Linked DNA regions of Homo sapiens: region 2 is linked to region 1. The links come from fine-mapping of genetic effects on gene expression. A gene starts in region 1. The other region holds a variant in brackets. All regions are shown on one strand. Distances are from middle to middle.

The links.
Region 2: its variant is fine-mapped to the expression of ZNF597 in blood mononuclear cells (TOPMed, PIP 0.98).

The regions. Positions count from the first base shown.
Region 1 is chr16:3,435,834-3,451,610 of GRCh38, reverse strand. It overlaps ZNF597 (zinc finger protein 597), which reads left to right and starts at 8,107. Exons shown (of 4, transcript NM_152457.3): 1 at 8,107-8,251; 2 at 8,405-8,490; 3 at 10,678-10,804; 4 at 14,073-15,777. The coding sequence starts at 8,458. The coding sequence ends at 15,187. It overlaps NAA60 (N-alpha-acetyltransferase 60, NatF catalytic subunit), which reads right to left and starts at 7,931. Exons shown (of 8, transcript NM_001083601.3): 1 at 7,774-7,931; 2 at 3,071-3,140. RefSeq lists an enhancer at 7,698-7,847.
Region 2 is chr16:3,408,943-3,424,719 of GRCh38, reverse strand. ZNF174 (zinc finger protein 174) reads right to left here. Exons shown (of 3, transcript NM_003450.3): 3 at 15,356-15,777. Among named protein-coding and RNA genes, the nearest start is that of ZNF174, 16 kb to the right of the region's middle. RefSeq lists a silencer at 4,135-4,417. The variant C/A (reference allele first, on the strand shown) is at 8,466.

The DNA.
Region 1 (15,777 bases):
ATCTAACTGAAAAAGGTCTCATTGTTTTAATGCACATTTCTCAGTAAGTTTGATCACCTTTTCTATTTTTGAGGCATTTATATGTCATCTTTTATAATGAGTGTTACAGATGTATCTAACATATTTTGGTTTTGGTTTAACTTGGGGGAGTTTTCTGACAGTAAACATTTTTATTTTTAGAAGTAATGCATGCCTGTGGTAAATTATTTTAAAGCAAAACAAAAGGATACATTGGTGAAAAATAAGTTACCCTCCCTCCAACTCAGTACCCAAGTTCTCCAGCTAACTCATCTTACCATTTTCCTGGTATCCATTCAGAGATATTATTTACATGGACAAGTACTATATTTTCATAAATAAAAGGCGTGCAAGTGAAATGGAGGCTGGGCTTAGATACTGGATTCTTTTCATTTCTTCCTTCCCCATTCTGGGTACAAATGGTGACCAAGGAAATGTGTTATTACACACATCCTGCCTTTGAGGAGTTACGTGATTACAAGACAATCTGATAAGCACTGCAACAGAGGTGTTTGTTGTACAAACAACAATGGAGCTTCTAGAATGGAACAGAGTAAATGCATTATTTACTAAGTGTCTGCTATACGCTAAACACTGAGTTATAATCCCTCCTGCATGTTCTAATTGACTTCTAACTTACAATGCTTGTACTGTACATTCTAATTTACAATGGCCTTGAAAGTTCAGTATTGTTGTCCTCATTTTACAGATGATGAAACACCCACCCAAGGCTTCTATACCATGCAGAATGATGCCTCTCTCCACTGGCTGCCCTGAGCACATGCCATGAAGAATGAAAGCCAGGAGACAAAGGAACAAACTAGTTCATCATTAAAACCTGTATGCTTTCCCTTGGATCACAACTTTCTTTTTTTTTTTTTTTTTTTTTTTTTGAGACGGAGTCTCACTCTGTCGCCCAGGCTGGAGTGCAGTGGCACGATCTCGGCTCACTGCAAACTCCGCCTCCCGGGTTCACACCATTCTCCTGCCTCAGCCTCCCGAGTAGCTGGGACCACAGGTGCCCACCACCACGCTCGGCTAATTTTTTGTATTTTTAGTAGAGATGGGGTTTCACCATGTTAGCCAGGATGGTCTCGATCTCCTGACCTTGTGATCCGCCTGCCTCAGCCTCCCAAAGTGCTGGGATTACAGGCATGAGCCACTGCGCCCAGCAGGAGCACAACTTTCCTGACTCACCCAGAAAGAAATCCACAAGCTTCCAAAACCAGCCTTCCTAGGCAGACCCTGAGAACATTTTTCCCAGGGTCCCAGAAACAAATCATGAACAAACCACTTCATGGCAAGCCCTGTGGCTTGCTGACCAGCCTCTGCTCTGCCTGAGAGGCCTCCAGACCACCCCAGGAGCACTCCCAGAAGAGCAGAAAAGCTCCATGAGACTAGCACAAGGGACAGTGAATTATCCCAACTCATGGTTCTGAAGGGTTTATTAATGTATGCATGGATCAAAACCCTTTCAGTCAGGAGCCAAATATTTTGCTTCCAAATATTTTGCTTCCAAAGAAATTCTTCTTTAGTTCCTTCTTCTTCTTTTCTCTTTTTTTGAGACGATGTATTAGTCTGTTTTCACACTGCTGATAAAGACATACCTGAGACTGCGCAATTTACAAAAAAAAGAGGTTTAATGGACTTACAGTTCCACGTGGCTGGGGAGGCCTCACAATTACGGTGGAAGGTAAAAGGCATGTCTCACATGGTGGCAGACAAAAGAGGGCTTGTGCAGGGAAACTCCCCTTTTTAAAAACCATTAGATCTCGTGAGACTTATTCACTATCATGAGAACAGCATGGGAAAGACCTGCCCCACGATTCAATTACCTCCTACTGGGTCCCTCCCATAATATATGGGAATTGCAGATGAGATTTGGGTGGGGACACAGCCAAACCATATCAGATGGGGTCTCGCTCTGTCACCCAGGCTGGAGTGCAGTGGTGCGATCTCAGCTCACTGCAACCTCCATTTCCTGAGTTCAAGCAATTCTTCTTCCTTAGCCTCCCGAGTAGCTGGGACTACAGTTGGGCGCCACCATGCCTGGCTAAATTTTTCTTTTTTTTTCTGAGACAGAGTCTTGCTCTGTCGCCCAGTCTGGAGTACAGTGGTGTGATCTCGGCTCACTGCAACTGTCACCTCCCAGGTTCACACCATTCTCCTGCCTCAGCCTCCCAAGTAGCTGGGACTACAGGTGCCCACCACCACGCCCAGCTAATTTTTTGTATTTTTAGTAAAGATGGGGTTTCACCGTGTTAGCCAGGATGGTCTCGATCTCCTGACCTCATGATCCACCTGCCTTGGCCTCCCAAAGTGCTGGGATTACAGACGTGAGCCACCACGCCCAGCACACCCGGCTACATTTTTGTATTTTTTAGTAGAGATGGGGTTTCAACATGTTGGGCAGGCTGGTCTCGAACTCCTGACCTCCAGAGATCTACCCGCCTCACCTCCTAAAGTGCTGGGATTACAGGCGTGAGCCACTGCGCCCAGCCCTTTGGCTCCTTCTTTATGAGTAGATAATGAAAAATAAATTTTTAACAAAAGAAATTCTCCTTTGGTATAAAATGATGCAAGTGTGTAAGACGGATCACCACAGATGATACTGCTTCCTTTGATTAGAACCAAACCAGAGGTGGCACAGGATGACCACCACGTGGCTACACAGACCAATCTCAGAGGGTCAGGGCAGCACACTGGGAGAGTCTCGTTCTCCACTAACATTGTCAGTGTGCCCTGAGACTGGGCTTACCCATCAGACTCACAAGAGACTGATGCTTAAACCAAATCTTGTTTACTTCTTTATAGTTTAAAGAGGCTGGCATACTTGTACTGTATCCCTGTGTACCTAACGTAAGAATATACTCATTTACCCTCCTAGCAAAAAAGTGAAAGCATTTGTTTCACTAGGCGCCTTCTATCATTCAGTACTAAAAATTAAGAGAATATTTAATACTTGACAGGTCAAAAATGGATTTCACTTAAGTAGGCTTCCTCTGACTATGAGGGCATCATTAATAGCAGGACACAGAGCGCTTTGACTCACTCTCTGGAGCTCTTCTCCCAACTCAGGCTGGCTCCGCACTTCCTTCCTCCAGGTACAGCCTTTCTGTATGCTGCAGGGGAGAAAGACACAAGGCCATCACTTCACTCCTGGCCATCCCATCTCTACAACTCATAGGCTAATGAGTGTCAGACAAACCCTGGATCTCAGAGTATCAATCTGATGGGCCCTTTTGGGGAAAAATTAACTATCTAAACATGTAGTTCTCTAAACTACAAAGCAACCCATGTTTTTTTTTTTTTTTTTTTTGAGACAAGGTCTTGCTCTGTCATCCAAGCTGGAGTGCAGTGGCACAATGCTAGCTCACTGCAGCCTCGAACTCCTGGACTCAAGTGATTCTCTTGCTTCAGCCTCTAAAGTAGCTGGAATTATAGGTGTGAGTGACCACGCCCAGCCTCCAACCCATCCTTTCTTCTCTGTCCTCACTGTATCTAACCTGCATTCTCTGTACCTCTTACTACCCTCCAGGAGTCTTTGGTTGCAGCTTCTAGTAACGATAATTATTCAGTATGAGTAGGTCAAGAATCTTTCTCTGGAAGCACCTCTGCCTCAGTGACTGAAAAAGAATTCTGTTGGGAGTTAACACAGACCAAGCCAGTTTTTGGTAACAGAATTAACATGTTGAAGGTACGTTTAGAGCCCTGAGCTTTTTTCTAATTAAAAGACTCCTATTAGTTTCAACTCAAGGCTAAATGAAACTAAAAAGACTCCTATCCAGCTAGAAGTTGTGCTAATTTCAAAACTGTGTGAGCCTCTTGTTCTTGCAGGCATGACTTGCAGCCATTGTCCCCTTATAAGACTGGAGACTAGGTAGCAACAGTTTTCTAACTGCTCAATCAAGCATTCTGAACACCAGTAAGAAAACCTCTTGCTGAAGTTGGGAGAAAGATAATCTTGCTTACCTAGGCCCCCTTAGTGTAGGTGAGAAGGCTCTGTGTCAGTTTCCGATCAGTATCAACTTCCCATGAAGGATACGGTAAAGGCGGTAAGAACCAGAGCCATACTTATGTTTAAGTAATAGACCTTAAAAGGCAGTACCATCTGGGAATGGAAAACACACCAAACGTAGTGAGCAATTCATTCTGGAAATCATGTTAAACATCGCCAGGGAAGATACCCCATTTACCTTGAAGTGATTACACATTGCATGCCTGCATCAAAATATTTCATGTACCACATAAATATATACACCTACTATGTACCCATAAAAATTAAAAATATAACTACCACTACCATTTTAACGCATAGTCTTCAAAAGCAACTTTGTTATTGTTTTTGTTTCATAACCAATTTTACTCCCAAAAATGAGTATCTTTCCGTTTCAATATACAGCTGCATCATCATAAAAATCACTAGGGAAAAGATATATACTTAAGAATAGGGGCCGGGGGCAGGGGCTCACGCCTGTAATCCCAGCACTTTGGGAGGCCAAGGCGGGCAGATCACAAGGTCAGGAGTTCGAGACCAGCCTGGCCAATATGGGGAAAACCCGTCCTCTACTAAAAATACAAAAATTCGCCAGGTGTGGTGGTACGCACCTATAGTCCCAGCTACTCGGGAGGCTGAGCCAGAAGAATTGCTTGAACCTGGGAGATGGAGGTTGCAGTGAGCAGGCCAGGTGCGGTGGCTCATACCTGTAATCCCAGCACTTTGGGAGGCTGACATGGGCGGATCACTTGAGGCCAGGAGTTTGAGACCAGCCTGGCCAACATGGCAAAACTGCATCTCTACTAAAAATACAAAAATTAAATGGTTGTGGTGGCATCTGCCCATCATCTCATCTACTCTGGTAGCTGAGGCACAAGAATCACTTGAACCCAGGAGGCGGAAGTTGCAGTGAGCAGAGATCGCACCACTGCTCTCCAGCCTGGGCAACAGTGAGACTGTCTCAAAAAAAAAAAAACAAATAATAAAGAGTAAATAGTGGTGATCTCTGGGTGACAGGAATGTGTTGCCATTTTTTCCCCTGTATTTTCTTTTTTTTTTTTTTTTCAGACAGAGTCTCACTCTGTCACCCAGGCTGGAGTGCAGTGGTGTGATCTCGGCTCACTGCAAGCTCCGCCTCCCAGGTTCACGCCATTCTCCTGCCTCAGCCTCCCGAGTAGCTGGGACTACAGGTGCCCGCTACCACGCCTGGCTAATTTTTTGTATTTTTAGTATAGATGGGGTTTCATCGTGTTAGCCAGGATGGTCTCGATCTCCTGACCTTGTGATCTGCCCACCTCAGCCTCACAAAATGCTGGGATTACAGGCGTGAGCCACCGCACCCAGCCTTTCCTAACTTTCTGAAATGCACATATACTACTTTTGTAATGATGTTAGTTTTACTATTTTTAAAAAGATAATTTTCAGAGAAAGCAGATGCTGGGCTATAGAAATAATTTCAATACAAACAGGTTGTAGTTGTTATTACTGGTACCATGTTAAAGACAGAAATGGAAAAACTTGCAAAAGATTGTCGTGGAAGGATTTTTAAATTTTGATGATTAAAACATGTTACTTGAACATATAGTGGGTATACAGTCAAGCATTTGTGATTTTTTACAAAATTGAGTTAGGGATATAATGTGGTCTAATTTTTCAATCTTGGTCTATCTTGGACTTTGTATGTCATCTCTTTATTTTCAGGAAGATAAAGCTTTCAAGCTTCCTCCTTCTTTGTCCACTTGTTTATAGTTTTGATGGCTCTTAGGAAAGATAGTCTAGGGAAGATTTTTTCCTCTCCCATTTCAGGTATATCCCTCTCTCTCTGGTAATCCACTGAGTTAATACCACATGCTTCATTTCAAAGCATTGGAAACTGTGTTTATTTCTTTGTAATTATGGCAACAGGATTTAAAGAAGAGAGCCACGGGAGTCTCTTGTTCTTGGTGAAAGAGCCACAAATCCAGATAAGGAGAATCTCAGACCACAATGAGACAGTGCTGATGTAAGAATAGCATTAAATAGGCGGGGCGCGGTGGCTCACGCTTGTAATCCCAGCACTTTGGGAAGCCGAGGTGGATCATGAGGTCACGAGATCGAGACCATCCTGGCCAACATGATGAAACCCCATCTCTACTAAAAATACAAAAAAAAAAAATTAGCCGGACGTGGTGGCGGGCACCTGTAGTCCCAGCTACTCAGGAGGCTTAGGCAGGAGAATCATTTGAACCCCGGAGGCAGAGGTTGCAGTGAGTCAGGATTGTGCCACTGCACCCCAGTCTGGCTACAGAGTGAGACTGTCTCAAAAAAAAAAAAAAAAAAGAGATAAGCACAAACCAAGAAGGGAAAGATGACTACGTGAACACCACAGTGACTCAACCATGAACATCTCCTTTACTTACACCTTCATATACAGGCTATTAGCTCTTCTTCAACATATATGCTTTGGACTGGTCTAGCCTGTAGGCAAGTTTGTTCTTACCATTCTTCCACCTGTCCTGGAAGCACCTTTACTGGGACTTCACAGCTACCTCTTTTGTGATCCATCCCCACAAGGTCTAGCTCTTAGTTAGCTGTCAAGAGATATCATTTGTGGCAGATACTGCTAGTTTCTTATCTAACTTATTTTCCACATCTCTTTTTTTCATTTGTAACAAAGCCCTAATTTTGTGCAGGTAGATTATCAAGGGAGGCTAGGTCCTTCCCCTAGTGACAGGGGCTGAAGCATGATGGGCCCCAAACAATTATTTATTCTTGGTAATAACTAGTTTAGGATGGGTACATGACACAATACATGTCTGTATATTTTACCTGGATTCTATTGTCAACGTTACCAACATGCTTAGGGTGGCAGAGAAGCACTGGGACCTTGATGTTGTCACTGGGCCACCGAATTAACCAACCTGTAACTGCTCTTTGAACATCCTTTCGGTGGGTTTTCTGTTACTTGTAGCTGAAACTATCCTATCAGATATTCCACAAAATCACATTACCTAAGTTGTCAAATCTCCTAATATTGTTTTAATAACCATGCAGCCATTCATTAAGCTTTTAGATACAGGAATGTGCCTGGCACTGGAATAAGGAAATATGTTGAGACTTTTCAGGCTTTTCTATCAAGGTACCTATCATTTTCGTCTTTTTTTTTCCCCAAACACCTTTATAAACTGGCAATTTCTTTCACTTACATTATCTTATAATCTTTGAAATTACCCTCTGAGTTAGCCCAGAGAGGCACTCTGAGCTGTTTGCAGCTGAGGAAAGCAAAGTTGTAAACTGGCCAAGATTACCAACCAATCAGTGGCAGAGCTTGGGGAGGAGCTCAATTTTCCAATTCCAAATGCCTACACCAGGGCACTCCCTCCTCCCCCAGCACACAATAGGAAATGACTGGCTCTAGGGTAGGCTGCATGTGAGGTATCCGGGGGCGAACAACGTCCTGCGACGCTAACCTATGGCTCTATTCTCGCGTGGGATCCTGTGACTAGGAAGCTGAAGCAGCTCGCTTAGGCTGCAGCTGCGGGTACAATACGTAATGCCTCTATAACACTTTGAGTCAGAGTCCAGCAACCTGGCCTACACCGATGTGAACGTTGTGAACGTACACAAAGATACTCCTTCATGTTCCACGGCCCCACCATCCGCTCAAGACACAAAGGACAGCTCAAGCCCAGGCTAGGCCCGAACCCCCGCCCTCTCAATCACCTTGCTCTGGCCAGACCGAAATTTCAGGCCTACAGGGCACTGTTGGCCGAACCCACATTTTGTTACCGATTTTCTTTCGAGTTCCGGTGTCTCCCAGTCTTCTTTCTGTCCTTCTTCTCGGAAACATTACGTCCCCCTGGGGTCACCCTAAGACTCTACTTCAGCAGGCAAACAGGCCCGGAGCTCACGGAGGAGACCCCGCCAGCGGAAGCGGAAATGGTTGCTTAGAGAAAAGGAGGAAAACTACCTCTCGCAGCTGCCCAGTGGCTACAGGTCCTCGGTTAAGGTGTTCAATTGGTCAACACAAAAGAAGGACTTCCCCTTCGGGAGAACTTCGACCAATCAAAGGGCAGGATGGCGGAGAGGGCTGAGGGCGGGTCGCTTCCGGCGGCTTTTCCCGCAGCTCCTGCGTAAAGGAGCATGAGAGCGTGGGAGTTTTGCAGTGGCCGTGGCGTTCTTCGTCGCGTCTCGGTCGGGCGTCGCTTTCTGCAGCTCCTGTCAGGGAGCGCGAGGCCTGTTATTAACCGCGGAGCGGTAAGTGGGCCCCTTTCGAGGCCGGGCCAAGAGGAGGAGCAGTCGGCGTAGGTTTTTAAGGGGGGGTTCGGAGGGAATCGAGGGAGGCTAGGGGTAGTGGAGGAACTTGGCAGCGGAATTGGTCCCTTTAAGAACTGTTCTCTCCCCCCGCAGCTTTGTCACGAAGTCCCTGTGGCGTCTTGAAGAAGGCATTCCCCACCCGCCAAATGGCGTCCATGCCCCCGACGCCCGAGGCCCAGGTGAGTCGAGGTACCTTTTTCGTCCAAGTTTATTGCTGCTTTCGGTCTCTGCCTGACCCCCTCCTTTGGAGGAGAGTTGGGCATGCCTGTTGTGGTAGGAGTGCTCCTGAGCCCCAAATAGCCCTTTGACCAAGTGTTCTTCGTTCCAAGACCACACACATAATGGTTTACCAACTTCCTTCTTTCAGAACTACCAACTGGGAGCAGGGACCTGTGGAGGAATCTCTGAGAGAGTTTCTCAATGTCTTATCTGTTTGTTTTGTTTTGTTTGGAGATAGGGTCTGGCCTTGTCGCTGGAGTGTTGCTTGTCTGGCTGGAGTGCAGTGCTGATATCATAGCTCCGTCTGGAACTCAGGGAATCCTTACGCCTCAGCCTCTCGAGTATCTGAGAGGCGCGCATACCACAGTGTCTGGCTACTTTTAAAAGTTCTTTTTTTTTTTTTTTTGATACAGAGTCTCGCTCTGTCGCCCAGGCTGGAGTGCAGTGGCGCGATCTCGGCTCACTGCAAGCTCCGCCTCCCGGGTTCATGCCATTCTCCTGCCTCAGCCTCCCGAGTAGATGGGACTACAGGCGCCTGCCGCCACGCCCTGCTAATTTTTTGTATTTTTAGTAGAGACGGGGTTTCACCGTGTTAGCCAGGATGGTCTCAATCTCCTGACCTTGTGATCCGCCCGCCTCGGTCTCCCAAAGTGCTGGAATTACAGGTGTGAGCCACTGCGCCCGGCCTAAAACTTCTTTATGGAGATGGAGTCTTGCTGCTTTGCCAAGGAACTCCTGGCCTTCAGCTATCCTCCCACCTCGGCTCCCCAAAGTGCTAGGATTAAAAGTGACTTTCTGGAATGGTTCCCAAAATTACAGATTTGGTACTTCTCCAATTTGAATGAATTTTTAAATTAAGCACATTTCTAGACTCCACACTCGTTGAGTAATAATAAATCCCAAGTGATTAATTTATCACACCGTTAGAGAAGGTGGGGTAGGCCTGGATGAAGTGCTGGAGTGAGCTTAGCAATGAGTGTCATGGGGACGAGAGGAAATAGCAAAGGGAAGGATGTTGGGAGAATCCTGTAACCTTTATCTCTTTATGATTCTTCCTGGGCTGCCCAACTTTCTCCTTTTCTTTTCTTTTTTTTTTTTTTTTTGAGACAGTCTCGCTGCGACGCCTAGGCTGGAGTGCAATGGCGCGATCTCGGCTCACTGCAATCTCTGCCTCCTGGATTCAAACGATTCTCCTGGCCCAGCCTCCCAAGTAGCTGGGACTACAGGCGCATGCCACCACATCTGGCTAATTTCATTTTATTTTAATTTATTTTTTGAGACAGAGTTTTTTTTGTTGTTGTTTTGTTTTTGTTTTTGTTTTTGAGATGGAGTGTCGCTCTGTTGCCCAGGCTGGAGTGCAGTGGCACGATCTCAGCTCACTGCAAGCTCTGCTTGAGACGGAGTTTTACTCTTGTTGCCCAGGCTGGAGTGCAATGGTGCAATCTCGGCTTACTGCAACCTCTTTCTCCTAGGTTCAAATGATTCTCCTGCCTCAGCCTCCCAAGTAGCTGGGATTATAGGCATGCGCCACCACACCTGGCTAATTTTTTGTATTTAGTGCAGACAGAATTTCACCATGTTGGTCAGGCTGGTCTTGAACTCCTGACCTCAGGTGATCCACTCGCCTCCACCTTCCAAAGTGCTGGGGTTACAGGCGTGAGCCACTGTGCCCAGCCTTAATTTTTGTAATTTTAGTAGAGACAGGGTTTCACCATATTGGCCAGGCTGGTCTCGAACACCTGACCTCAAGTCATCTGCATCCCCCTCAGACTCCCAAAGTGTTGGGATTACAGGCATGAGCCACCACACCCGGCCCCAAACCTCTCCTTTTCTTAGAGCATCCTCACTTAATGGTTGCCTCCCTAAGAGCCATTCCCTCATCTTTTCTCTTTCAAGATAGACAATAATTCTCACAGTCCACCGTCCTTGTACCACTGCCTAAAAATGTATGTCCATGTTTACTCTCTTCTTCCCAACCCTCACCCCACCCCTTAGAACCCATTTGCCCTACTTCTGCGCTCAAGAACCTTTTACACCGAGCCTTTTATCCCGTGCATCTGATGTTTCTAGCTCTTTTCATCCTTCCTAGGTTAAGTGAGGGGCTGACCCTCCACCCTCTTGTGCTGACACAGGCTCTTGTGTTTCAGGGACCAATACTCTTTGAGGATCTGGCTGTGTATTTTTCTCAAGAGGAGTGCGTGACTCTGCACCCTGCCCAGAGGTCCCTCAGCAAAGATGGTACAAAAGAGTCTTTGGAGGATGCGGCTTTGATGGGTAAGGCAATTGTTTTTCCTGCATCTGGAACTTTTGTCAATTCTAGGAGGAGAACTTCATGCTTTATCCAGATGTTGGTATGGTGGAGTGGGACCTGTCCCTCAGTAATTTATGTGGAGGTGATAATTGTGTGAGAGAAAAAGTTTTAAAATATGAGATGATTTTTTTTTTTTGAGACAGACTCTCGCTCTGTTGCCCAGGCTGGAGTGCAGTGGCACGATCTCTGCTCACTGCAAACCGCGCCTCCCAGGTTCACGCCATTCTCCTGCCTCAGCCTCCCGAGTAGCTGGGACTACAGCCGCCTGCCACCATGCCCAGCTAATTTTTTGTATTTTTAGTAGAGACAGGGTTTCACCGTGTTAGCCAGGATGGTCTCAATCTCCTGACCTTGTGATCACCCGCCTCGGCCTCCCAAAGTGCTGGGATTACAGGCATGAGCCACTGAGCCCGGCCGAGATGATCTCTTAAAGACAAAAATTCAGTCTAGTACAGTGCCTGTGGTTTAGTACAAGAGATGGCAGTATTTGGTAATCTTTCACAAACATTTGTTGCAGTTTACAATTTTACTTGGGAAATCCCATTAGTATCGATCACTATCATTTGCTAAAGACTGGAGATTGATTTACTCTTAAGGGGTGCTATGCCTTACTCACCTAAGGGGAACCATACACAGATGGACTCCTGTGCCTGACTAGATTTTATTTCTGACTAGGATTGAGTATCTAAACTATCTATTCTAAGTAGTTATTCTAAATAGTTTGGAATAGTTGAGATACTCAATCCTAGTCAGAAAAAAATAACTAGAGTAACTAGTTATTCTGAATAACTCATATTTTGTTTCTTCCACTTCTCTCTTCATCATGTTCATGTTGTCTTCTGTCTGCGTAAATGTATGGAGTATATTTATAATGGTTATTTAAACTTTTTTTTCTTGCTAGTTTTAACATTGATGTCATTTCTGGGTCTGTTTCTATTGATTGATTTGTCTTCTAGTTATGGGTTATATTTTCTATATTTTCTTTACTTCCTGGGTAAATTTTGGTCGGATGTTAGATTAAGAATTTTATGTTGTTGGACCCGGGATTTCGTTGTATTTTTAAAAATATTTTGGACTTTGTTGTGGGAGGCAGTTAAGTTACTTGGAGTCAGTTTGACTGTTTCAAGGTGTGCTTTTTTTTTTTGCTTTGTTAGGATAGGTTCAGATCAACCTTTCTGCTAGGACTTATTTGAGTTACTGCTAAGGCAGTTTTTTTCTGTGGACGTTGCTGCTCAATGTCTTATGTCTTTCCACTTTGGCTGGAGGCAACATGAACTGGTTATTGCTCTGTTATTCCTTTTAGGTGGTTCTTTCCACGGCATTGGGTAGTTTCTTCATGCACTTGTAGATTACTACTCAGCCAAAGTTGTGGGGTTATTTTTTTTTTGATACAGTATCTTGATCTGTCACCCAGGCTGGAGTGCAGTGGCACAATCACGGCTCACTGCAGCCCTGACCTCCCAGGCTCAAGCAGTCCTCCCACCTCAGCCTCCCAAGTAGCTGGGACTACAGGCATGCACTACCATGCTTGTCTTTTTTTGTTGTTTTTTTTTTGTAGGGATGGGGCTTTGCCATGTTGCCCAGGCTGGTCTCGAGCTCCGTGGCTCAAGCAATTCTCCCACCTCAGCCTCCCAATGTGCTGGGATTACAGGTTTGAGCCACTGTACCTAGCCTCAGGAAAGTCTTAAGGGGACCCCATGTAGATGACCTGAGCTCTCTTTCTGAACAGCTGCCTCTTTGCTGTTTTGCTTTCAAATTCTAGCTGCCTTGGCATCCCTGATCTCTGAACTCAGTCCCCTCAAATCAGCAAAACCACTTGGTACTGTTTGGATTCCCATGAACTATACTGCAGCCCTTTCTAGTCAGTGAGTTGGGAAAACTGTAGAACTTTGTTTCTCTGGAAAGAAAAGTTCCTTTTGTATTGATATATTTGCTTTATAACTGAAGAATACTTGGAAAATATTACACAGGAATGTTAGTTTTGTCAGCCATTCTTGTAAGTAGATTGGCTGTTATTTTCATGCAGTACACACAGCCTTCTACCTTGATCTTTCCTCAGTGAGGAGTAAAGAGATTTTGGAGAGTTCTCCTGGTGATAATAAAACTATTTCTGATAACCCGTGTGTTTCTTTGTTATGGAAGAAAAATGCTCACTTGATTGCTTTTTTTTCTTTTTTCTTTTTTAATTATTATTATTATTTTTTTTTGAGACAGAGTCTTGCTCTGTCGCCCAGGCTGGAGTGCAGTGGCGCGATCTCGGCTCACTGCAAGCTCCGCCTCCTGGGTTCACGCCATTCTCCTGCCTCAGCCTCCCGAGTAGCTGGGACGACAGGCGCAGGCCACCACGCCCAGCTAATTTTCTGTATTTTTTTTTAGTAGAGATGGGGTTTCACCGTGTTAGCCAGGATGGTCTTGATCTCCTGATCTCGTGATCCACCCGCCTCGGCCTCCCAAAGTGCTGGGATCACAGGTGTGAGCCACCGTGCCCAGCCTCTTTTTAAAAATTATTTTCTTTCCCACTCATTCTTGCTGTCATCTTTTTTTTTTTTTTTTAAGAAACAAGTTCTGGCTCTGTCACCTAGGCTGGAGTGCAATGGCACATCTCAAACTCCTGAGCTCAAGTGATCCTCCTGTCTCAGCCTCCTGAGTATCTAGGACTATAGGCATGTGCCACCATGCCTGGCTAATTTTTAAAAATTATTTTTTGTACAGATGGGGTCTCACTGTGTTGCCCAGACTGGTCTCAAACTCCTAGCCTCAAGTGATGCTCCCACCTCAGCTTCCCAAAGTGCTGAGATTACAGACGTGAGACACTGCCCAACCCCTCTCTTTGTTGATAAATATGAATCCTAATCTTTTTTCCAATTGTTAATTGTTCTGCTGTCACTTGAGATAGCTTCAAAAATGAAAGGCTCTTGAGGCCTAAATAGATTAGATGGAAAAGTTCACCTCTAGATAGCTGCTACTGAGATTGTCCTTAGTACCTATCCCACTGGACTCTGACTTAGTTATAGCTATTCTCTCCTTACCTTTGGATATTCACCCAAAACTGGATCTTCTGGGAGGCCAGGAGAGTCTGCTTGGTCCTGATTTTGTGTGGTTAGTGTCTGGGTTATAGAATAACCCTTCTAAGGTTTCCTGGTCCTGTTTGTAACTACCTTAGCTTACTTTTTCCCCAGTATCCCTTGAAGATATTGTCTATGTTTTGCTTTCTTTTGTTTTTATCAACAGGAGAGGAAGGCAAGCCTGAGATTAATCAGCAGTTAAGCCTAGAGTCTATGGAACTTGACGAGCTTGCCTTAGAAAAGTACCCCATTGCTGCACCCCTTGTCCCTTACCCAGAAAAATCCTCTGAGGATGGAGTTGGAAACCCTGAAGCGAAAATATTAAGTGGAACTCCCACTTACAAGAGAAGGGTCATCAGCCTTTTAGTTACCATTGAAAACCACACCCCATTAGTAGAACTCTCTGAATATTTAGGAACCAACACACTTTCTGAAATTCTTGATTCTCCCTGGGAAGGAGCCAAAAATGTGTACAAATGTCCTGAGTGTGACCAAAACTTCAGCGATCATTCATACCTAGTTTTGCATCAGAAAATTCATTCAGGAGAGAAAAAACATAAATGTGGTGACTGTGGAAAGATCTTCAATCATAGAGCCAACCTGAGGACACACAGGAGAATCCATACTGGTGAGAAACCTTATAAGTGTGCCAAGTGCAGTGCCAGCTTTCGCCAGCACTCTCATCTATCCCGACACATGAATAGCCACGTAAAGGAGAAGCCCTATACATGTAGCATATGTGGTAGAGGTTTTATGTGGCTCCCAGGATTGGCACAGCATCAGAAAAGCCACAGTGCTGAAAACACCTACGAATCTACTAACTGTGATAAACATTTTAATGAGAAACCAAATCTTGCTTTGCCTGAGGAAACATTCGTATCAGGCCCCCAGTACCAGCACACTAAGTGCATGAAGAGCTTCAGGCAGTCCTTATATCCTGCCCTTTCCGAGAAGAGCCACGACGAGGACTCTGAACGCTGCAGCGATGATGGGGACAATTTCTTCTCATTCTCAAAATTCAAGCCCTTACAGTGTCCTGACTGTGACATGACCTTTCCTTGTTTCTCTGAGCTTATTTCCCATCAGAACATTCATACAGAGGAAAGGCCCCATAAGTGCAAAACATGCGAGGAAAGTTTTGCTTTGGACTCAGAACTTGCATGCCACCAGAAGAGCCACATGCTAGCGGAACCTTTTAAATGTACCGTGTGTGGGAAAACTTTCAAGTCGAATTTGCATCTCATTACTCATAAGCGAACTCACATAAAAAACACCACGTAAAGTAAATATAACAAATTGTTATTAGTGATTGGGCTTTTCAGTATCTGTATGGTGGGAAGCAGTTACTGTATATGTCCCAGGCAATGTGCTAAGCACTTTACACACATTCCCATGTAATACTTAATTCTCAGCACAACCGTGATTTAGGCAGTATCATTTCCATTTTATAAGTAGGGATGCAAAATCCGTGTCACTAAACTAGTGAATGAACCCAGGATTTGAACTCAGTTACTGTACAACTGTGAGCCAGAAGAAGATACACAACTTTTGTTTAAATTCAATTTTCATTAAAATGAAGGCTCTTGCTAAAGTTATTTTAATTTTGTTTACGTAGTTTCTGACTTTTAGAAGGAGGAGAATTTATTTATATTTTGCCAGTTCTGCAGACATATCTAGGAAAGTAAATGCTTTTATATGTTTTATACTTTTTTTTGCTATAACTATTTGAATGTAATACTTGTATAAGATTGCTGTTCTACATGTGAATTCCCACAGGCGTTCAGAAGTTTTTTTCTGCCCTGTAAAAGTTCCCAAATGGGTAGACTAGTTTATATTTTGATGGCCATTAGTATCCGGAGTTCTCTGTCATG
Region 2 (15,777 bases), 27 kb after region 1:
GGCTGAGGCAGGAGAATGGCTTGAACCTGGGAGGTGGAGGTTGCAGTGAGCCTAGATCATGCCATAGCACTCCAGCCTGAGCGACAGAGCGAGACTGTCTCAAAAAAAAAAAAAATAAGATGAATCCAAAGAGATCCACACTGACATACATTACAATCAAATTGTCAAAAGTTAGAGACAGAATTTTGAAAGCAGCCAAGGGAAAAGCAACTTCTGTGTACAAGGGTCCCCTAATAAAACTATTAACAGAGTTTCCAGCATAAACCTTGTGGGCCAGAAAGGAGTGGGACAATAGATACAAAGTGCTGAAAGAAAAAAACTTCCAGTCAAGAATGCTATATCCAACAAACCCATACTTCAAAAATGAGAGGGAAATAAAGACTTTCTCAAACAAAAGCTGAGGGAGATTATCACCACTAGACCTGCCTTATAAGAAATGCTAAAGAGAGTTCTTAAGGTTAAAACAAAAGTATGGAAAACAGTAACAGGAGCACACGAAGTATGAAACTCATTGGCAAAGGTAAATATATAGTCAAAACCAATAGTGTATTACTATAACAGTAGTGGGTAAATCAATTTTAGTTCTCTTATAAAAGTTAAAAGACAAAAGTAGTAAAACAACTATATTATGTTAATTGGTACAATATAAATAGGTGTTAGTGGTGATATCAATAGCATATAAGCCAGGGGAAGAGAGATAAAAGCAAAGTTCTGACATGCAAGGGAAGTTAAGTTGTTATCAGCTTAAAGTAGACTATTATAAGAGATTTTATGTAAACACTTGGTAACTACAAAGAAAATGCCTATAGAATTAAAGAAAAGGAGAAAATAATGAAAACATAGGCCAGGAGTTCGAGACTAGCCTGTCCAACATGGCAAAACCCCATCTCTACTAAAAATAGAAAAATTAGCCAGGTGTGGTGCTGCACACTTGTAATCCCAGCTACTTGGAAGGCTGAGGCAGGAGAATTGCTTGAACCAGAAGGCGAAGGTTGCAGTGAGCCGAGATTGTGCCATTGCCCTCCAGCCTGGGTGACAGAGCAAGACTCCATCTCAAAAAAAAAAAAAAAAAAAAAACAGTGAAATACAAAAGAAAACAGCAAGAGAAAGGGACAGAAGGACTATAAGACTAACAGAAATAAGTAACAAAATATCAATAGTAAATCTTTCCTTATTTTTTATTTTATGTTTTGTTTGTTGTTGTTTTTGTTTTTTGTTTTTGAGACAGAGTCTTGCTCTGTCTCACCCAGCTGGAGTGCAGTGGTGCTATCTTGACTCACTGCAACCTCCACCTCTCGGGCTCAAGCAATTCTCCTGCCTCAGCCTCCCAAGTAGCTGGGATTACAGTGTGTACCACCATACCCAGCTAATTTTTGTACTTTTAGTAGAGACGGGGTTTTGCCATGTTGGCCAGGCTGGTCTCGAACTCCTGACCTCAGGTGATCCGCCTGCCTCAGCCTCCCAAAGTGCTGGGATTGCAAATGTAACCCACTGCACTCAGCCAGCAATGATTTTTTGAATATCACACCAAAAGCTGAGGCAAAAAAAAAAACAAAGCAAGACACAAGAAACAAGTAGGATTACATCAAGCTATAAAACTGCTGCAAAGCAAAGGAGGCAGTCAACAAAATGAAAAGGTAGACTATGGATTAAAAGAAAATACCTGCAAATAATATATCTGATAAAGTCATCAAATATATGAGGAACTCACACAACTCAAAAACAAATTAACCAAATAGCCCAATTAAAAAATGGGCAATGAATTTGAATGGACATTTTTCTAAAGAAAACATAAAATAACCAACACATTGAATGAGGAAAAGCAGGATGGATTCCCTTTGAAAACTGGCACAAGTCAATAATGCCCTCTCTCACCACTTTTATTCAACGTAGTATTGGAAGTCCTGGCCAGAATAATGAGGCAAGAGAAAGAAAGAAAAGGCATCCAAATAGGAAGAAAAGAAGTCAGACTCTCCCTGTTTGCAGATGACATGTTTCTATCTAGGAAACCCCATTGTCTCAGCCCAAAAGTTCCTTCAGCTGATAAACAACTTCAGCAAAGTTTCAGGATACAAAGTCAATGTACAAAAATTACCGGCATTCCTATGCACATACAACAGCCAAGCCGAGAGTCAAATCAGGAAGGCAATCCCATTCACAATTGCCACAAAAAGAATAAAATACCAAGCCGTGCATGGAGGCTCACACCTGTAATCCCAGCAAGATTCCATCTCAAAAAAATAAATAAGTATATAAAATACCTAGGAATACAGCTAACTAGGGAGGTGAAAGATCCCTACAATGAGAATTACAGCACACAGCTGAAATAAATCAGAGATGACACAAATGGAAAAACATCCCATGCTCATGGATTGGAAGAATAAATATCATTAAAATGGACATATTGCCCAAAGCAATTTGTAGATTCAATGCTATTCCTATCAAACTACCAATGACATTCTTCATAGAATTATAAAAAACTATTTTAAAATTCACATGGAACCAGCTGGCTGCGGTGACTCACACCTGTAATCCCAGCACTTTGGGAGGCCGAGATGGGCAGATTACGAGATCAGGAGATTGAGACCATCCTGGCTAACACGGCGAAACCCCATCTTTACTAAAAATACCAAAAAAAAAAAAATTAGCTGGGCATGGTGGCAGGTGCCTGTAGTCCCAGCTACACATGAGGCTGAGGCAGAAGAATGGCATGAACCCGAGAGGCGGAGCTTGCAGTGAGCCAAGATTGCGCCACTGCACTCCAGCCTGGGCAACAGAGCAAGACTCTGTCTCAAAAAAAAAAAAAAAAAATTCACATGGAACCAAAAAGAGCCTGAATAGCCAAGGCAATCCTAAGCAAAAAGAACAAAGTTGGAGGCATCACATTACCTGACTTCAAACTGTCCTACAGGGCTACAGTAACCAAAACAGCATGGTACTGGTACAAAAACAGGCACATAGGCCAATGGAACAGAATAGAGAGACCAGAAATAAGGCCACACTCCTAAGATCATCTGATCTTCAATAAAGCTGACAAAAACAAGCAATGGTGTGTGGGTGGAGGGAATCCCTGTTCAATAAATGGTGCTGGGATAATTGGCTAGCCATATGCAGAAGATTGAAACTGGACCCCTTCTTTACACCATATACAAAAATCAACTCAAGATGGATTAAAGACTTAAATGTAAAATCCAAAGCTATAAAAACCCTAGAAGACAACCGAGGCAATACCGTCTTGGACATAGGATCGAAAATATTTCATGACAAAGACTCCAAAAGCAATTGCAACAAAAGCAAAAATTGAGACATGGGACCTAATTGAACTAAAGAGCTTCCTCTGCACAGCAAAAGAAACTATCAACAGAGTAAACAGACAACCTCCAGAATGGAAGAAAATATTTGCAAATATGCGTCTGACAAAGGTCTAATATCCAGCATCTATAAGGAATGTAAACAAATTTGCAAGAGAAAAACAACCCCATTAAAAAGTAGGCAAAGGACATGAACAGACAATTTTCAAAAGAAGACATACATGCAACCAACAATCATAAGAAAAAAAGCTCAATATCACTAATCATTAAAGAAATGCAAATCAAAACCATAATGAGATACCATCTCACACCAGTGATAATGGCTGTTATTAAAAAGTCAAAAAATATGCTGGCAAGATTGCAGAGAAAAGGGAACACTTATACACTGTTAGTGGGAGTATAAATTTCGCCCAACCATTGTGGAGAGCAGTATGGCGATTCCTCAAAGTGCTAAAAAGAGAACTACAGTTTGACCCCACAATCCCATTACTGGGTATGTACCCAGAGAAATATAAATCATTCTCTTGTAAAGACACATGCACATGAATGTTCACAGCAGCACCATTCACAATAACAAAGACGTGGAATCAAAGGCCCATCAGTGACGACTGGATAAAGAAAACGTACATATACACCATGAAATACCGTGCAGCCATAAAAAAGAATGAGATCATGTCTTTTGCAGGAATATCGATGGAGTTGGAGGCCAGAAACTACTGGCAGGAACAGAAAATACTGCACGGAACTTTCTTTCTTTCTTTCTTTCTTTCTTTCTTTCTTTCTTTCTTTCTTTCTTTCTTTCTTTCTTTCTCTCTCTCTCTCTCTCTCTCTTTCTTTCGTCTCTCTCTCTTTCTGTGTTTCTTTCTTTCTTTTTTTTGATGGAGTCTCACTCTGTCAACCCCTGCTGCAGTGCAGTGGTAGGACCTCAGTTCACTGCAACCTCTGCCTCCCCGGTTCAAGCGATTCTCCTGCCTCAGCCTCCCGAGTAGCTGGGACTACAGGTGCATGCCAGCATGCCCGGCTAATTTTTGTATTTTTAGTAGAGACGGGGTTTTGTCATATTGTCCAGGCTGGTCTCGAACTCCTGACCTCATGATCTGCCCACCTTGGCCTCCCAAAGTGCTGGGATTACAGGCATGAGCCACCGCACCCAGCCTGCATGGAACTTTCAATACTGTTCCACTGACCAGCCATACTCCCATCGCTCTTCCTCTCCTTGGACCTCCCTTTTCCCTGAGACACAAAAATATTGACATTAGACCACTTAATAACTCTACGATGACCTCTAAGTGTTCAAGTGAAAGGAAGAGTCACACATCTCTCACTTTATTTATTTATTTTTGGAGATGGAGTCTCGCTCTGTCGCCCAGGCTGGAGTGCAGTGTCGTGATCTTGGCTCACTACATCCTCTGCCTTCCAGGTTCAAGCGATTCTCCTGCCTCAGCCTCCTGAGTAGCTAGGACTACAGGTGTGCACCACCACTCCTGGCTAATTTTTGTATTATTAGTAGAGATGGGGTTTCACCATGTTGGCCAGGTTGGTCTCCAACTCTTGACCTTGTGATCCACCCACCCCAGCCTCCCAAAGTGCTGAGATTACAGGCATGAACCACCCCTTGGCCCATCTCTCACTTTAAATCAAAAGGTAGAAATGATTAAGCTTAGTGAGAAAGGCATGTCAAAACCTGAGACAGGCCAAAAGCTAGGTTTCTTGTGCCAAATGTTTAACCAAATTGTGAATTCAAAGGAAAAGTTCTTGAAGGAAATTTAAAGTGCTACTCCAGTGAACACATGAATGATAAAAAAGTGAAACAGTCTTTTTGCTGATATGGGGCAAGTTTGAGTGGTGTGGATAGAAGATCAAACCAGCCACAACATTCCCTTAAACTAAAGCCTAATCCAGAGCAAGGCCCAAACTCTCTTCAGTTCTGTGAAGGCTGAGAGAGGTGAAGAAGGTGCAGAAGAAATGTTGGGAAGTAACAAAAGTTGGTTCATGAGGTTTAAGGAGAAAAGCCATCTCCATAATATAAAAGTGCAAGGTGAAGCTTCAAGTGCTGATGGAGAAACTGCAGCATGTTATCCAGAAGATCTAGCTAAGATCATTGATGAAAGTGGCTACAATAAGAACAGATTTTCAATGTAGACAAAACAGCCTGCTATTGGGGAAAGATGCCATCTAAGACTTTTGTAGCTAGAGAGGAGAAGTCAATGCCTGGCTTCAAAGCCTTAAAGGGCAGGCTGACTCTTTTGTTGGGGTGAATGCCGTTGGTGAAGCCAGTTCTCATTTACCATTCTGAAAAATCCTGAAGCCCTTAAGAATTATGTTTATTCTGCCTGTGCTCTATCAGTTGAACAACAAAGACTGGATGACAACCTATGTGTTTACAGCATGGTTTGCTGAATATTTTAAGCCCATTGTTGAGACCTACTGCTCAGAAAAAAAAATATTCCTTTCCAAATATTACAGTTTATTACAATGCACCTGGACAACCAAGAGCTCTGATGGAGATATACAAGGAAGTTAATGTTTTCATGCCTGCTAACACAACATTTATTCTGCAGCCCATGGATCAAAGAGTAATTTCATTCTTCTCTTTATTTCATTTTATTTTTTTGAGATGGGCTCTCACTCCCCCAGACTAGACTGCAGTGGTACAATCATAATTCATTGCAGCCTAGCTCCTGGGCTCAAGTAATCCTCCTGCCTTGGCCTCCCAAGCAGCTGAGACTACAGCATGTGCCACCACACTTGTCCAATTTTTTAAATTTTTCTGTAGGCTGGGTGTGGTGGCTCACGCCTGTAATACCAACACTTTGGGAGGCCAAGGCAGGCAGATCACAAGGTAAGGAGATCAAGACCATCCTGGCTAACACGGTAAAACCCTGTCTTTACTAAAAATACAAAAAATTTGCCGGGCGTGGTGGCATGTGCCTGTAGTCCCAGCTACTCAGGAGGCCGAGGCAGGAGAATTGCTTGAGCCTGGGAGGTGGAGGTTGCCGTGAGCCAAGGTTGCACCACTGAACTCCAGCCTGGTGACACAGCAAGACTCTGTCTCAAAAAAAAATGTTTTTCTCTGTAGCGATGGGGACTTGATATGTTGCCCAGGCTGGTCTTGAACTCCTGGGCTCAAGTGATCCTCCCACCTCAGCCTCCCAAAGTGCTGGGATTACAGGCATGAGACACTGCTCCCAACCATAAGTGTTTGGTTTTGTTTTGTTTTTGCTTTTGTTTTTGTTTTTTTTGAGACAGTCTCACTGTGTTTCCCAGGCTGGAGTGCAGTGGCGTGATCTCAGCTCACTGCAACCTCCAACTCCTGGATTCAAGCGATTCTCCTGCCTCAGCCTCCTGAGTAGCTGGGAGTACAGGAGCACGCCACCACACCCAGCTAATTTTTCTATTTTTGTGGAGATGGGTTTTGCCATGTTGGCCAGGCTTGTCTGGAACTCCTGACCTCAAGTGATCTGGGTGCCTCAGCCTCCCAAATTGCTAGGATTACAGGTATGAGCCATGACACCCAACCATTTTGTTTTTTGAGACAGGGTCTTGCTCTGTCACTCTGGCTGAAGTACAAATGGCACAATCACAACTCACTGCAGCCTCAACCTCCTAGGCTCAAGTGATCCTCCCACCTCAGGCTCCCAAGTAGCTGGGACTACAGGCATGCACCACCATGCCCAGCTAATTTTTTAATTGTTTTGTAGAGTTGGGGTCTTCCCTGTGTTAACTCCTGGGCTCAGAGAGCAGTCCTCCCACCTTGGTCTCCCAGATTGCTGGGATTACAGACATGAGCCACTTGCACAGCCCAAAAGTGTTTTTTTGAGATGGAATCTACTCTTGGTAAAGATGCTGTGAATGTTGTTGAAATGACAATAGGATTTAGAATATTACATAAACTTAGTTAATGAAGGAGCAGCAGGATTTGAGAAGATTTTGAAAGTTCTACTGTGGACAAAATGCTATCACCCTGTATCACATGCTATGGAGAAATCTTTTGTGAAAGGAAGAGTCAACTGATTTGAAAAACTTCATTGTTATTTTAAGAAATTGTCCCTGCCACCCCAACCCTCTGCAGCCACCACACTTATCAGCATTTTGTTTATCTGATGTAATGCTTTTCCACACTTAATAGACTACAGTATAGTGTAAACATAGGTTTTATATTCACCAGGAAATCAAAACATTTGTGTGGCTCATTTTATTGGGACATTCACTTTATTGTAGGGGTCTGGAATCAAAACTGCAATATCTGTGAGGATACTGTATACAACTAAGGTACGTTATTCACAGTAGCCAAGACTTGAAAACAACCTAAGTGTCCACTGGTAGATAAATGGATACACACACACACACACACACACACACACACACAGAGCGGAACATTATTCAGCCTTAAAAAGGAGATCTATCTGCCAGGTGCAGTGGCTTACCCCTGTAATCCCAGCACTTTGGGAGGCCAAGGTGGGTGGACTGCTTGAGCCCAGGAGTTTGAGACCAGCCTGGGTAACATAGTGAGACCCCGTGTCTACAGAAAAAAATGTTTTACAAAATAAGCCACGTGTGATGGCACACGCCTGTAGTCCTAGCTACTTGGGAGGCTGAGGCGGGAGGACGACTTGATTCCGGGAGGTCAAGTGACTGCAGTGAGCTATGATTGCACCACTACACTCCAGCCTGGGTGACAGAGCAAGACTCTGTCTCAAAAAAAAAAAAAAAAAAAAAAGATTCTACCATTTTCAACAACATGAATGAACCTGTTGGACTTTGTGCTAACTGAAGTAAGCTAGACATAGAAAGAAAAAATACTACATGATCCCACTTATATACAAAATCTAAAAAAGTCAAATACATAAAAGCAGAGTAGGGTGGGTGCGGTAGCTCATGCCTGTAACCCCAGCACTTTGGGAGGTCGAAGCAGGCAGATCACCTCAGGTCAGGAGTTCGAGACCAGCCTGGGCAACATGGTGAAACTCCATCTCTACTAAAAATACAAAAATTAGCCGGGCATGGTGGCAGCATGCCTGTAATCCCAGCTACTTGGGAGGCTGAGGCAGGAGATTTGCTTGAACCTGGGAGGTGGAGGTTGCAGTGAACTGAGATCGCACCACTGCACTCCAGCCTGGGCAACAGAGCGAGACTGCATCCTCACCAAAAAAA[C/A]CAACAAAAAACAGAGTAGAATGGTGGTGGGGGCGGGGGCGGGGGAGGAAATGGGGAAATGTAGGTGAGAGGGTATAAAGTTGCAGTTATATAGGATGACTAAGTCTAGAAAGCTGATGTACAATATGATGATTATACTTAATGATATAGTACTGGAAATTTGATAAGAGTACATTTCAGGTATTCTTACTAGAGGAAAAAAATTTAAGGTAACTGTGTGAGGAGATGGATATGTTAATTTGCTTGACTATATTAATCATTTCACTATGTATATGTATATCAGAATATCATGTTGTACATCTTAAGTGTTGTACACGCTGTGGCCAGGAAGATGGAGTAGACTGTTCAGGTTGGATTCTCATGTGCTGTCCTGGAGTTGGTATCAGTTCTACCAAAATCACAGGGATTAAGTGTGAAGGAAGGATCACTTGAGTCCAGGAGTTCAGGGCTACAGTGAACCATGATTGTACCACTGTACTCCAGCCTGGGCAACAGAGTGAGACCCTACCTCAAAAAAGAGAAGAAGGAGAAGAGAGGATGGGTGCTTGGGTTAAAAATAATAGTTAAATCAGAGTAGAGAATCAGAGAGGTAATTAGAATAGTTATAAAAGTGGCTAACACCATTCAAGTGCGGGTCCTATGCCAGCCCTCCTATGCTAAGCACTTTTCCTGGATTATTTCACCATTATCATCACATTTCACACATCAGAAAATATAGGACCAGGTTGTAGGGTATGTTGGGCAGGCAGTAGGAGACAGGATGGAAGGTGCACTGGAGGTGTGTTGTTACATCTCTCAACTTCCTATGAGCTGTACAAACTCCAGAAACATTATTGAATCTCAGTCTCCTCAAATGCCAGGAAGATAATCATAGGGTCTATCTCGAATATGCTAGTCAAAGCAGATGTGCTGTCAGTTGTATCTCTGTGAGGAATCGCTGTCGTCATCAAGTGATCGCCCTGGCAAGAGAATGTTTGGGGGTGGCATAAAGACCTTCCTACCTTTGGCTGGGCGTAGTGGCTCACGCCTGTAATCCCTGCACCTTGGGAGGCCAAGGCGGGTAGATCACCCATTTGAGACCAGCCTAACCAACATGGAGAAACCCTGTCTCTACTAAAAATACAAAATTGGCCGGTTGTGTGTAATCCCAGCTACTCGGGAGGCTGAGGCAGGAGAATTGCTTGAACCCAGGAGGCGGCAGTTGCGGTGAGCTGAGATCGCGCCATTGCGCTCCAGCCTGGGCAACAATAACGAAACTCCATCTCAAAAACAAAACACAAAACATAACAAAAAAACAAAACGAAACAAAACAAAAACCTTTCTATCTTTATAAATTAGATCCTTCCTCAGTCACTTGTTATTGTGCCATTTCTGTTTTAACATTTCTTTTAGGAGCTGTGTGGTTGCAGTTTTGCCTTTGTGTAATTATTTGATTCAGATGTGTTCCTTGCTGGAGACTAGGCTTTTTTCTTTTTTCTTTTTTTTTTCCCCCGAGATACAGTCTCCCTCTGTCACCCAGGCTGGAGTGCCGTGGTGTGATCTTAGCTCACTGCAACTTCCGCCTCCTGGGTTCAAGCAATTCTCCTGCCTCAGCCTCCCTGAGTAGCTGGGACTATAAGCGCACGCCACCACGCCCAGCTAATTTTTTTTTTTTTTTTTTTTTTTTTTTTTTTATATTTTTGTTAGAGACGAGGTTTCACCATGTAGGCCAGGCTGGTCTCGAACTCTTGACCTCAGGTGATCCGCCCACCTCAGCCTCCCAAAGTACTGGGATTACAGGCGTGAACCACCGCGCCCGGCCTGGAGACTGGGCTTTCTAAGAGACCATGAGCATCGTCCGGGTTCACCATATTGCCTCCAGCCCCTATTGGTGCCTGGCGTGTTGTGGACAGTCAATAAATATTTGTCATTTGCGTGAACAAGCTTAATGAATGAACCCCAGGACACCCTTTGAGGTTCAACAGTCTCAGGCAAGCAACAGCTCAGCAGTACGTGGAGCCCACGAAAACCACAATTCCCAGAGGGCTCCGTGGCTGCCCGGCCTCCTCTTCACCCTGACAGCTGTGCCAGGCAATGGAAGGTGAGAATTCCTCGGGCTGGGCGCCAAGCAGCCCACTCAGAGGGGACTCTTTCAGGTATTTCCTGTCGAGGCCCCGCCCCTCACCCTAGGAGCGTTCTATCCTCCGGTGGCGATTTCCGGAAAAGCCTACCTGGAACATCCGGCCACAGGGCTCGCTCAGCTGCAGGGTCCTTACCTGTCTATTCCTGCCCGTTGTCCCTGGGTGACCCCGGGAATGGGGGCATGTGACTCCCCGGGGGACCGCGTTCCCTCCCTCCCAGCACGTCCCAGGCCCAGAGGAGGAGGCGGCTTCACCCTGGCGGGGGCTTGCCCTCAAACCTATCGGGCACTGACCCTTGGAGGAGGGCTCCCGGGTGCAGTGTTGAGGCGGGAAGGCAGAGATCTGCATTGAGAGGGTTTCGTTGCGATCTGCATTGAGAGGGCAACTGCAGCCAAGTAGAGCCATGTTTTGCTTTGAGAAGGTTTAAGAGGAATTCATCTAGCCAGTGAGGTCAGGGAGTCACTGTCTCACTGCTGTTTTCTTTTTTTTGAGACGGTGTTTCACTCTTGTGACTTCCAGTCTCTGGTTGCAAATATAAGGAGCTTGAAAGTTGTCACTCCATTCTAATGACAAATAAAAAGCTGAACAACCCGAAAAACCCAACAATTCTTCTGTAAGAGAAGTGAGGTCACAGGGCAAACAGCCACCCCAAAATTTGTAGAGACAGACTGGTGGATACGGAGAATCACAATCTATTGGAGCAGCTGAGGTCCTCTGGCAGACCATGCATGGGTACGGGGGCTGAGAGGAAACTTACATCTGAGTACAGGACCTTGGGTTCTTGTAGCCATTGGACCCTTCCTGGTCCTCTTGGCCTGGAGTTGAGCCTTATACCAAAGGAAGGCTATGCTTGGGGATGGTCTGTTGCCCAGGCTGGAGTGCAATGGTGCGATCTCAGCTCACTGCAACCTCTACCTTCCTTCAGCCTCGCCTCCCGGGTTCAAGAGATTCTCATGCCTCAGCCTCGTGAGTAGCTGGGACTACAGGCGCACACCACCACACGCGGCTAATTCTTTTTTTTTTTTTTTTTTTTGGTACAGACAGGATTTCACCATGTTGGCCAGGCTGGTTTTGAACTCCTGGCCTCAAATGATCCGCCTGCCTCGGCCTCCCAAAGTCCTGGGATTGCAGGTGTGAGCCACTGCGCCTGACCCCAACCCTTATAATTAAGTAGAAATCTATGGTCCTTCTCTTTTAGGAGAGATGCTCTTTGACTAACTTGATTCAAGATGGATATGTGCGGTGGGTTGAGTCATGGCACCCCAAATGTGTCCACATCCTAATACTTGGAACCCATTAAGTTTACCTTATATGGCAAAAGGGGCTTTGCAGATGTTATTAAGTTAAGGATCTTGAGATAGGGAGATTATTCTGGATTATGCCGGTGGGCCCAACATCATAACGGTCCTTATACAAGGCAAGCAGGAAGGTCATAGTCAGAGGAGAATGCGGTGGAATGAGATTGGAGTGATGCACTTTGAGGGTGGAGGCCAAAGGATGTGGGTGGCTGTTAGAAGCTGAAAAAGTCAAGGCAAGAGATTCACCCCTCAGAGCCTTCAGAGGAACCAGCCTTGCCGACAGCTTGATTTTGGCTGAGTGAAATCAATTTCAGATTTCTGACCTCTAGAACGATAAGGTTGTGGGTTTTTTTTTTTTTTTTTTTTTTTTTTTTTTGAGACGGAGTCTTGCTCTGTAGCCCAGGCTCTGGAGTGCAGTGGTGCAAACTCGGCTCACTGCAAGCTCCACCTCCTGGGTTCACGCCACTCTCCTGCCTCAGCCTCCTGAGTAGCTGGGACTACAGGTGCCTGCCACCACGCCCAGCTAATTTTTTTTGTATTTTTAGTAGAGACGGGGTTTCACTGTGTTAGCCAGGATGGTCTCGATCTTCTGACCTCGTGATCCACCCACCTCGGCCTCCCAAAGTGCTGGGATTACAGGCGTGAGCCACCGTGCCCGGCGGTTTTTTTGCTTTTTGTGTTTTTTTGTTTGTTTTTGTTTTTTGAGTCCAAGTTTCACTCTTGCTGCCCAGGCTGGAGTGCAGTGGCACAATCTCGGCCCACTGCAGCCTCTGCCTCCCATGTTCAAGTGATTCTTCTGCCTCAGCCTCCCGAGTAGCTGGGATTATAGGCGTGCACCACCACATCCGGTTAATTTTTGTATTTTTAGTAGAGACAGGCTTTCACCATATTGGCCAGGCTGATCTTGAACTTCTGACCTCAGGTGAACTTTTCACAACCTTGGCCTCCCAAAGTGCTGGGATTACAGGTGTGAGCCACCACGCCCGGCCCCAGTTTGTGTTGTTTTAAACCATTAAGCTGGTGGGTCATCTGTTACCACACCACAAAGTACCTAATACAGATGTGACTATGACTTGGAGGTTATTAAGGGACAACAGTGAAATCAGCCTGGTTTCAGTAGGGTGAGGTGGAAACACAATGAGGAAGAAAGAGGCCTTGACCAGGGAGAGGTATCAGGATGGAGCCAGGTATGGGGCAGCTCGGATACAGAAGCTAAATTCTTCATGATCTAACATAACAGATGGGAATGGGATCAGGGCCTAAAGTACCTAAAGGACCACAAAAGCTGTAAGGAAGGCCACTGGGCCTTCAATAAGCCTCTGCCCAAAAGACAGAAGCTCACCTGTGCATTCAACAGATTGTCACCAGGATCTCTGAACTCAGGCAGACATGGGCCCTGTGGGTACAGTGGGGATTCTCAACTGTTCACATACTGAACATCTGTTTCTCTTGGCTGGTTATTGACAAAGTCCAGAAGCTAAAGTTATGGAAAAACAATGTTCTTGTTTTGAAAGAGCTGTTATAGTGCATGGTAGTTTCCCAGCCTTGGTGATACTGATTTTTTGAGCCAGGTCATTGCTGTGGGGGCTGGCTGTCCCGGCACTGCAGGCGGTTCAGTAGAACCCACTAGAGGCCAGCAACAAGCCTCCCTTCCCCAGTCCTAACAACCAAAAGTGTCTTTGGACTTTGTCCGACAACCCCTGGGGGGCTCCCAGTTTGAGCACCCCTGGTGTATGGGGTCTAGCAGAGAGGCTGGACCCCAATTTTCACAGAAGTCTGCCTAGGGCTCCTCAGGGAAGGCTTTGAGAGAAGGAAACTCTTGTGAGAGGGAGGAGGCAGGAGGGAGTGGGGAGCATCAGGAAATAAAGGCAAAGGAAACAATTGTGTGCAAAGGCCCCAAAGAGGACTCATAGGTGTGCATATGTCCCTCGGCAGTTAGAAGGGACAAGAGATTCCTTGGGGGGTACAGAAGAGCTCAGCCCACAGCCCTGAGGTGACTGGTAGTTACTTGATGATACTGATGTTTTGTGAAGAATGCTACCTTGCTGAGCGTACATCTGTAATCCCAGCACTTTGGGAGTCTAAAGTGAGAGGATGGCTTGAGCCCAGGAGTTCGAGGATAGACTGGGCAACACAGTGAGACTCTGTCTCTACAAAAAAATAGAAAAATTAGCCAGGCATGGTGGTGCATTCCTGTAGTCCCAACTGCTCGGGAGGCTGAGGAGGGAGGATTGCTTGAGCCCAGAAGATCGAAGCTATAGTGAGGCATGATCACGCCAGTGCACTCTAGCCTGGGCAACAGAGTGAGACCCTGTCTCAAAAAAAAAAAATGCTACTTGCTTCTTATTTTCTGCATCAGGAATGCACTAATCTGCCAAAAGTTTTCTCTAAACTGAGCAATGAGCTAGGAATTGTATACTGATTTGCATTTTAATTTCCGCTTTGAGAAAACGAGGAGGTGGCATTAGATGATCGCTCAGGCTTATTTCCAGGGCTCATTTTATATAAATATATTTTGTCACTTAAAAATACGCTGTTGAGGTACAATTTACATATCATAAAATTAGCCCATTTCAATTATTTTTAGTAAATTTACTGAGTTGTGCAACCATCACTGTAATCCAGTCTTAGAATATTTTCATTACCCCAATCCTTTTGCTATTTTTTTTTTTTCCTGAGACAGAGTCTCACTCTGTCATCCAGGCTAGAGTGGAGTGGTGCAATCATAGCTCACTGCAGCCTCTAACTCCTGGGCTCAAACAATACTTTTGCCTCAGCCTCCAAGAGTAGCTAGCTGGGATTATAGGCATGCACCATCATGCCTGGCTAATTTTTGTATTTTTTGTAGAGACAGGATTTAGCTACATTGCCCAGGCTGGTCTCAAACTCCTGGGCTCGATCACCCTGCCTCAGCCTCTCAAAGTGCTAGGATTACATGTGTGAGCCACTGTACCCCCATTGCATTTTGTTATTCTTAAAGCTAATGGGCTAAGTGAGAAAGGAGAGTGGGAAGAATTCCCTTTTATATCTCCTTAGTACTCTTTGTCCACTACTTGCTTCTCACTGTAGCTTTTCCTTATGTGTTAGGCTGGGGTTGCAGCAACTGTGTAGATTTTTTTTTTCTCAATCAAAGGTGCTTTGAGAACAGGCACGGTGGTTCACACTTGCAATCCCAGCACTTTGGGATGCCAAGGCAGGAGCATTGCTTGAGCCCAGGAGTTCGAGACCAGCCTGGGCAACATAGCGAGACCCTGTCTCAAAAAATAAAAAGGAAAAAAAAAAGGTGCTTTGATACAAAAAAGATCCCTCAAATGTAATTTTCTTTTCTTTTTGTAAAAGCACCATCTAACTACTTGGAAACTCTTCTCGCACAAACGTGCATATTCTCATTTAATTCATCCTTTGCTATAAACAGCTAGTAATTACAGAAAGAATATGAGGGATCTATTTTCCAATTAACTTTGCCTTGAAATTCTGGTAGATCACTCATCTTTATTAAAGAAGTGTGCTCATGATAAAAAATTGTCTGGTATGACAGCAAATGCATAACTATATATATAGAATTTATCCCTTAACATATTTTAGAGGATAAAGCAACAGAGGGACGATTTAACAGTAAGCGGGCCACCTGCAGGATTGTCCTGATTCTCTCTCAGTAGTTACTCCTTGCTCTCTGCAGAGACTTAAGTTCTCTTTGCCCCAGTGCCCAGACCTGCCTTCTCTTCACCCTGTCATCATGCACGGTTGGGCCCTGGTTGGCCTTTTCTGGGCCTCCTCACAGCAGAATGTGCATCATCATTCCTCAAGGGCCTCGTGCTTTCCTTGTAAGTCACACAGTTTTTGTGATTTACATGCAAGTAAGGGGGAGGAGAAACACAAACACCTTCCGTGTGA